Regions from separate parts of the Homo sapiens genome. Here region 1 is linked to region 2. Evidence: fine-mapped expression QTL. A gene starts in region 2. The other region holds a variant in brackets. All regions are shown on one strand. Distances are between the middles of the regions. Region 1 overlaps EHD3 (EH domain containing 3). Region 2 holds the start of EHD3 (EH domain containing 3).

Region 1 (4,385 bases), 23 kb before region 2:
AGTGGGGCTCAGAGAAGTCAAGTGATTTGTCGAAGGGCACACAGCCCATGAGCAGCAGCAGTCGCATGAAGATGGAGGTGTTAGGCTTTCCCATTCTGAGTCTGAGCAGGGTTCTCAGCCTCTCCTCCTGCCACTCCCCCGTGGCATACCTCTGGCACCAAGGTAGGAGCCCTTTCTTGGGTACTAAAGTGACCAACCATCCTGGCTCCCCATAGCACAAGGGTTCCAAGGTGACACACACTGGGGACCCAAAGCTCATTGCCACCATCGAATGGGAAACCAAATCATTAGGAAAAAGCCTGCCCTGCCTCACAGAGGGAGGCTAGAGACCAGGCAAGATCATCAGGCAACTGCCTTGTGAGTGAGTCAGACTTAAGAAGCTCTGACTGTCTTTAACAGGGGTCCTGACTTAGCCTCCATCAGAATCCCCCCAGGGCTTCTTAAAACCCAGATGGTTGGACTCTATCCCCAAAGTTTCTGATTCAGTAGGTCTGGCGCAGAGCATTTCTAACAAGCTCCCAGGAGATTCTGATGCTGTTGGTCCAAGGGCCACACTTTGAATACCACTGGCCCATAAAAATAACAATAGCATTCAAAAGGTGTTCAGCACTGACCTAAGTACTTTATAATCATTCATTCCTTTAATCCTCACGATGACTCTGTGTAGGGTCATTAGACACTAATATCAGCCCCACTTCTCTGAGGAGTAACCAGAGATACAAACAGATAAAGGAACTTGTCTAAGGTCACCCAGCTGGTAAGCAATGGGCTGGGACTCAAGTCCAGGAAGGTAGCCCTGGAGTCAGTGCTATGAACCACTGCACCGAGTTGGCTTTCACTTTCAAAGGCTGTCATTTCAGACTAAGTAGCAGGCATCGATGGGGTGGGGGATGAGGATGAATGGAGCCAACGGAGCTAGGTTTAAAAAGCCTTTCCCCCACCCTGTGGCATCTAGTGAACACCCAGTGGGGTACATATTTAGGACGTGTGGAGGCACTGCCACAGGGGGTAGGGGGATGGGATCAGACGGTCGGGAAAACTTGCTGCCCTAAAGCTTCCTGGAGGACCCCTGTAATGTTTCCCTGGTGGCTGTAAGAGAATTCTAACAAACAAAGGAAGGTCAAACCCTCCTTTGGTTACCCGGATGCCAGTACTACTCCATTTTCAGCTCCTCTGTCTTTGGTAAATGAAGTGCTTCCAAGCATTCCCATTGCCATGTGATTTTCTCCAAGATCTGTCAGCTGCTCAATGAATATACAGCTCAACTAACACCTGAGCCTTCTCCCCCTGCTCCTGTGGCGTAGACCTATGAGGCTACGAGGAGCTTAGCCATCAATGGTCCAACTTCCTGATTTACAGATAGGGAAACTGAGGCTCAGGAAGGGGCAGAGCTGGCCCAGTATCTCCAGGTGCCATCCTGAGGATAGTTCCTGATGGGTGCGTCATCGAGGGCCTGGTGTGAACTAGATTTTGCCTTCTCTTTTGAACACAGGTGTCCTGTCTCGGCTCAGAGACAAGGCCCAGGAAAGTGCTTCAGAGGCTGCTCTGCCCAGTGGGCAGGGGCATCATCAACCCTCCCTCGGAGATGTTCACGCAAACTCTAGGAGTTAAGTGACTCAGCCAATACCACCCATGAGACACGACCCCTAGCCTCCAACTCGAAGTTCAGTGCTTGCTGCAGACGGTAAGATGTTCATGTCATTATCTCATGTCACCCTCACGACACGCTCTGAGGCAGGCAGCGCGAGGAGTATCGTTCTCACTTCCAGGGGAGGAAACTGAGGTTCAGAGAGGAGAGAGTCAAACAGTTGGCAAGTCGTGAGGCCAGATGACCCAGCTGTCAGCCATCCAGCCGTTCTGCACCTGGCCGCTCCCTGCCTCCCTCCCTCCCTCCCTGGCACGCAGGCACAGCCAGCTCCTCACTGGAGCCCGGGAAGCCTAAGCATTCCCACTTCAGGTGAAGCCTGCAGCCCGCACTACTCCCCTCCTTCCTACATCCCTCTGTCCATCCTTCCCTTCCCAGGGATGGCTCCAGCCTATTTTTATCTTCCCTTCAGCACAGCGCATGGCAAGGCTGCTGTCACCTCCCAAAGGCAGTCCCTCAGAGCTGTGGGTAGGGAGGGGCCAGAGGGCTAAGAAAATCCCCAACCCCCACCT[C/A]TGCAAACAGCTCACAGCAGGAGGGCAGTAGGGACCCTCCACAACTCCCTGCCAGGCCTCTGGCCTTCTGCTGCTCCTTATTCCCCAATCTGGATTTTAGCTGTGCCAGTGCAGGCCACAGGAGGGGCTGCTGGGAGGACCAAGACTGGGCTGCAGCTCCCTCTCACCTGTCCAGCAAATCTCAGCCCCAATATATTGGCTCAATGGCTCAGAACAGGCTAAGGCAGCCAGGGCAGCCAGTGTTGAGTCCTATGCTGACAAGGTAATGGAGGTTTATAGAGGGTGAGAGAAAGGCCCAAGGCCATGCAATGCTGGGGGTCAGAGCCAAGACCTGAACTCCAAACTCAACTCTTGCACTGTAGCCACGCCTCCACCAGGCTGGGGAAAACAAAGACACCAGAGAAGCTGCAGAGAAGGGAAGAGGCTCTGTCCCTGCAACTTGCTGCAATCCCTGATGACACCAGCGATGTAAGAGAAGGCTGTGTCTGCAAAGGCTGAGGGGCAGCAATATGTCCATGCTGCCAGAACAGGATAGACCCCTGCCTATCCCTGTCCCTGCCCTCAGTGGTCTTGTAGCATCATGCACGCTCCTGTTCTGCTCTTCAGCTCACTGAAATCATCCTCGGTGCACTGGGAGCTGGACAGGGCAGGGGCAGCACCTCACCCTTCTGGGCTTCCCCTGCACCCAGCACGGTGTGTGGCACACAGCAGGTGCACTATCAGTATTTGCTGAACGGAAGTGAAACGTGGAAAACGTGGAAACCTGTTCCACGTTTGGCATCTGGGAGACAGTAAATGAGTAATCTCTGGGCCTCAGTTTTATGGTTGAGGAATCAGTGACTCAGTCGTAGGGTTATTGTGAGGATCTAAACAAATCAGAGGATGCAGGTGAAACTGCTGAGCTGTGACCTTGGCTGTTCTCATTGCCCTGCTGTTTTTTGTAAAGCACTCCTTTTAAGCCCTAGTTTCTATGAGATGGGATGTGCTCTGTAGGAGTCACCAGAGGAGCACTGGCCTGGGTGAGTCCACCTCTCGTTTCCGCTTAGCCACTAACTTACTGTGTGTCCTTGGGCAAGAATCTCCCCTCTCTAGTCCTCTGTCTCTTTGCCTGTCAAATCAGGGGATTGAGCTGGACAACCTCCGAGCTTCCTTTCTCGGTTCACAATTCTCTGCATCTGAGACCAGAGGTGTGAGGGTGGGGAGTACAACAGGATGGATGGAGATTAGCTACAAGGGACCCTTTGCAGGCACAGCAAGAGAGAGAGGCTGCAGGCTGCTGTCTTACAGGCCTCGGGGATGCCTGTGTGAAGTCTGCCTCTGCCTGAGGACAGGCCAAGGGCTTCTGGGAACTCTTTCCGTGATTTTATAAGCAGAGGCCTCCTATTTGCTCTGGAAAGCTGCTATCCAATTACAGACTCAGTAATGCCAGAAGCTTCCAGCCAGGTGTGGCTGTGAAGACCATGACCATCAAGCAATGACTCCATGGGTTGCTCTGAAGCTCGACTTCCCTGCTCCTGGCTAACCCCGAGGCTGTGTCATCTGTAGGGTGGATATTTAGTTGTTCACTTGGCCTGGACTTAGGTGCAGATCTAGGAATGGCGGTATCTCAAAGGTATGGACTGGACCCAGTAAGAAAAAGGGTATGGTATAGGATTAGCTTTCTCATTTATTTGGCAAATCTGAACCTCAATTTTCTCAGCTGCAAAATAGGGATAACAAATGACTGAATGAGGGGTCTGTGGTAGAGCTGAATGAGGACTCTGTGGTAGAGCTGTGGCAACAAGATCTGACAGCACAGACTGCCTCAGCAGCTGCGGTGAGTGCTATGGCCAGTGACAGGCCCCCTTCCCCTCTCTGGTCCCAGCGATGGCTCTGAGACCCACAACGGTAGCTCTTGGGCACCTGCGGCAGCCCAAGTGTTCATGAAATATGGACTAGTGAGTCGGGGGAGATTCAAGCCCCAAGAGACAGAGCAGAGAAGCTGCCCTTCCTGGACTTCATAGCACAAGTCTGCTGGCTCTAAGAGGTCTAGTCAGCCAGCTCCGGGCCTGGAGACTGGGCAGCCTGCAGGGATCTATGGTCCCCTCCAACCGGAGGCTCCAGATGACTGGAAAGAAAGCACTTTGAAGTAATGCCAGGCAAGAGGAAATCAATCAGACAAACACAGTAAGGAAAGCCACCCCTTCCTCACCCGCCGGCTTCCATCATGGCCTGGCATGCAGTGCCTG
Region 2 (4,385 bases):
GAGCCTGAGTCTTAAGACAGAGGGCCACAGCATTCTCAACAATTTGGAATGGCTATAAAAGGGGCCAAGAAAATGGCTGGCCTTGAAGTTGGGAAGATTGAGGACTGGAGTGAAGCCTGTTCTCTAAAGATAAGAAGGGCCTCTGGTGGACTTCTCTGAATGCAGGGTGAACAAATTGACTTCTTGAGCCTCCCTCCAGCCCAAGGATTCTGTAATTGAAGGGAATGGATGACTCATTCTCAGAGTTACAGGCGTTTAGCCAAGCATCTCCTCACATGCATCTAGGACTTAACATCCCAGGTCTGCTGCCCACTCTTTAGATGGCTCTGCACAATTCATTTAACTTCTCTGCGCCTCGGTTATCTCACCTGCAAACTCAGCAACTGGATGAGACAATGCCAATATCCCTTCCATCTCTAAGCGTCTTTAATATTATTATTAAGCCATTAAGATCAAATAAGAGAAAGGGGAAAAAAAAAGCATTCTGCTTCTGGACTCAGCTTCTGTTGAGTCTCCAAGATATATACACAGGAGCTCTGCTTTAGAGAAGGAAATGATAAAAGGAGGACAAGTAGCATCCCCAGGCCACCTCCGTTCCCAGGCCCGCACCCATCAGAACTCAGCTGCAACTGTGAGGCCCCCATGTGAGTGCCAAGCCCCTTGAAAAACAAGGGAAGAGGTTTTGCCCGTGAATGATGTGTTGCTAAAAAGTGAAGACGTAAGACATCCCCACCAACATAAGGCGCTCCAGAGACCAGGAGCTCTTCCATTGTGCCTCCTGGGCCTCGGTTTCATCATCCATAAGATGGGGAGACTGGGAATGGCTTTACACTTGAATACTTCAGGTTGACCACCACAGCCAAGGGCCAAGTAGAGTGGACAGGTATTGGGTAGGATGGGAAGGGGGACCAGCAAAAATTGTGGGGTAAGATTTTGACGCCTGCACAAACACAGATCTCTTCAGAGCCCTCAACTGAAGGCTTCCCATTGGTCCCCTGTCTGGGATGGAGCACCAGGAGTGACCGGAGGGACTAGGCGCTGGGCTCCGGGGTGGGCTGCCAGGACCCTGGGCCGGCTCACCTGATGAAGGTGGTCTTCCCAGTGGAGTACTGGCCCACCAGCAGAACCATGGGCTTGTTGTCGAAGTCGGCATCCTCCAGGGCGGGCGAGTGGAACTCGTGGAAGCGGTAATGCTCTTCCAAGGGCAGCAGCTTGCTCTTGTAGAGTTTCTTGAGCCCCTCACTCACCGTCTGGAAAACCTCGGGGTCCTTCCTCCGGCGGTCGTCCGTACCCAGCCAGCTGAACATCGCGGCCGCCGCTCGCCCCCGGCACGCAGCCCCAGGGGAAGACTCCTCCTCAGGGGAAGATGTCCCGTAGGACCGGTCCGCCGGGCTCCGAGCCGCGCCGCCGCCTCACCCAAGCGCGGGGCTCAGCCGCACCATGGCCCGGGCACGCGGCTAGGAGGGCCGGGAGCGCACTCTCCCTGCTCCTGGGACCAAGCCCAGCCGCTGCTGCATCCAGCAGCCCAGGCCGGAGGGAGGATAAATAATCTGGGCTTGAGGAGGAGGGGTGAAATCTTGGCAATTAAAGTTGAACCTGCAAGGAAACTGCCAGATGCCGGGGTCCCAAGCCGGGGTCCCCGATCGGCCCCCAGCCCTCGCCTGCTCTGCCCTGCGTGCAGCAAGGGATGCTTCGGCTCCGCTCCTGCCGGACCGAGGCGGCTCAGGGGAGACGGCGACGCTGCCCAGCCCGCGGACAGCTCTGCATCCGCAGCAGCATCCTGCAGCCCCAGGCGGTGGTTTAAATGCCAGCTGGGCAGGAAGCCGGCGCGCAGAGGAAGTCCCCTAGTACTGGCAAGGCAGGGCCGGCCCCACGGTTGCGGCGACGGGAAGCCGCGCAGGGCGCCGCCATGTTTGTGGGCAGGCGCTCAGCTCTAGACCTGCGGCCGCGCGGGGAGAGGGATGCTGACCCAGTCCAGTGGGAGAGTGCCGGTGTCTCAGTCTCCGCCTCTGGGGCTTCGATTTGGGAACAGCGCCCTCTCAGGGACGGCTGCGAGGACAGAGTTGACCTATTCATCACACTCCCTGCTTTGAATCGCCTCTCCTTCAGTTGCTGAGGTCAATTCCCTAGGAAAACAGGTACTCTAGTATTGGGGGATTTTTTTTTTTTTTGGCATAGAAAGGGGATCCACTATCAGGTTACACAAAATAACCAAAACTGTCACTACCCAAACTTTTAGCTAGGCTTAGGGTGAAGTCAAAATCGTTCCCATTTACTTATTCATTCATTCCAGCAAAACAAAACAAGCCAAGAAGCAAAATCCCTGCAAGTATTGGGAATTTATTATGGGGCAGTTACAATTTTGGTGACTGTGGATACAGAGATGAGTGCTGAACAGACTCTCCCTTCCAGGAACTCCAGTGAAGGCAGGCTTTAAAGAGGAGGCATGAGCAGAGGGTCATGGGAATACAGGGAGGAGTCACTCCTTTTGTGTGGCTAATTTGAGGAAGGCTTCATGGAAAGCATGACTGTAAGCTGGATCCTAAATGATGAATTGACATCCATTGTTCTAGGAGCGTAAGGAGTATTTGCAAAGGCTTGAGGAACTTGGTGTGTCCAAGGCAGAGTAAACAGTTTGGCATAGCTGGAGTGTAGGGTTTAGGAAGGTGAAAGAGAGTGAGGGAGGCCAAGCATGAAAGGCTTTGCCAGAGATGGGGAACCAATAGCAATGCTATTACTAATCATTGTTACATTAACAAAATGCTCAGCATGTGCAGGGGCCTGGGCTAAGTTCTCAGTGAACATTGCTTTATTTAACCTTCATGGCAGATCATATTATCTCCAGCATCATACTAAGGAGAGTGAGTGGGAACACTGTCCAGGTGTAGGCAAAAGCAGTGCATCGTGTGTAGAGAATTTAAACCCAATAATAAACTTGCTGAAAGTTGATGTGCTTTGTATTGGCACCATTCTAAACAGTGTAGTGATAAAACACTCCTCCCTGCCCAGGCTAATGACTCCCACTACCCTCCCTTCCACAGATGAAGAAGGAGTAGGCTATGGACCAGGCAGGAACTGGAATGCCAAGAGCAGTGTTGGAGGGGCAAAAGAGGTTGGGGGTTGATATGGTTTTGCTTTGTGTCCCCGCATAAATCTCATCTCTAATTGTAATCCCCATAATCCCCATGCGTTTAGGGAGAGAGCTGGTGGGAGGAGATTGGATCATAGGGACAGTTTCATTCATGCTGTTCTCATGATAGTGAGTGAGTTCTCGTGAGAGCTGATGGTTTTATAAGGGGCTCTTCCCACTTGGTTCCTCATACTTCTCTCTCCTGCCGCCTTATGAAGGACGTGTTTGCTTCCCTTTATGCCATGACTGTAAGTTTCCTGAGGCCTCTCTAGGCATGCAGAACTGTGAGTTAATTAAACCTTTTTCCTTTATAAATTACCCAGTCTTAGGTATTTCTTCACAGCAGTGTGAAAACAGACGAATACAGAGGCCAAGAGACCATTTAGGAAACTATTCCAAAACTTAGGAGACAGCTGCAATGGGATTGGAGAAGAGGTCAGACTCAAAAGATTTTTTTCATGGAATAGAATTGTCAGATCTTGGTATGTGATAAAAAAAAGAGGACATAAGGGTGAGGCACAGTCTAGGATGATTTTGAATTTTCTACCATAGGGGATAAGATCATTGGAGAAGCTCTTCCACTAATTAGGGGAGGCAGAGAGAGAGCTGATTTAGCAGACAGAGATAATGTGTTCAATCTAAAACGTGTTGCGTTTGAAGTGCCTGCAGGAGCTTCAAGAGGAGTGTGGTGAAGCTGCAGGGATTTCAGGGGAGGGGGGATTATCAGAGGCCAGTGCTGAATAGAATCTCCTTAGTTACATCTCAGATCTCCCGACTCCCTCCTTGAACCCCAAAACTGATCATCTCTTGTTGAGAATTCACTCAGATTAATATTTCACCCTTGGTGTTTAGCTACTACCAACATACGAACCTAAGGAGTAATATTAAAGATATTTAACAACTCACAAGGCATGAGAATCAAACACCCGGAACAGACACTGGCCTTCCTAGTGGAGCAAGGCTTGCGGCCCCGTGCCACGCCTGGTGTTAATACAGTGGCGTCTGGACCTTGGAGAGATCTGAGCCTGTCCCCGGAGAGAGGTCAGTATGGCCAGCGTGACAGGAAAGAAATCAAGGGGCCCCATTATGGAAGTATTTCAAGAATTTTGTAATCAGTACGGCCATGCCATTGTCTACTGCTGAATGTCTGTTCCGAATATCTAATTTACCAAGTGCGTGTTGACACATCTACTCCCGTCTCAGTCTTGAGTAGTTGAAATCTATCTGTTTAAAAAAGGAACTAATGGAGCATTTC

The links.
Region 1: its variant is fine-mapped to the expression of EHD3 in whole blood (TOPMed, PIP above 0.99).

The regions. Positions count from the first base shown.
Region 1 is chr2:31,254,955-31,259,339 of GRCh38, reverse strand. All of the region lies in intron 3 of EHD3 (EH domain containing 3), which reads right to left. LOC124905983 (a long non-coding RNA gene) reads left to right here. Exons shown (of 4, transcript XR_007086270.1): 2 at 1,493-1,684. Among named protein-coding and RNA genes, the nearest start is that of EHD3, 23 kb to the right of the region's middle. RefSeq lists enhancers at 2,171-2,220, 2,306-3,133. The variant C/A (reference allele first, on the strand shown) is at 2,158.
Region 2 is chr2:31,231,544-31,235,928 of GRCh38, reverse strand. EHD3 (EH domain containing 3) reads right to left here and starts at 1,777. Exons shown (of 6, transcript NM_014600.3): 1 at 1,081-1,777. The coding sequence starts at 1,307. It also overlaps a transcript of CAPN14 not described here.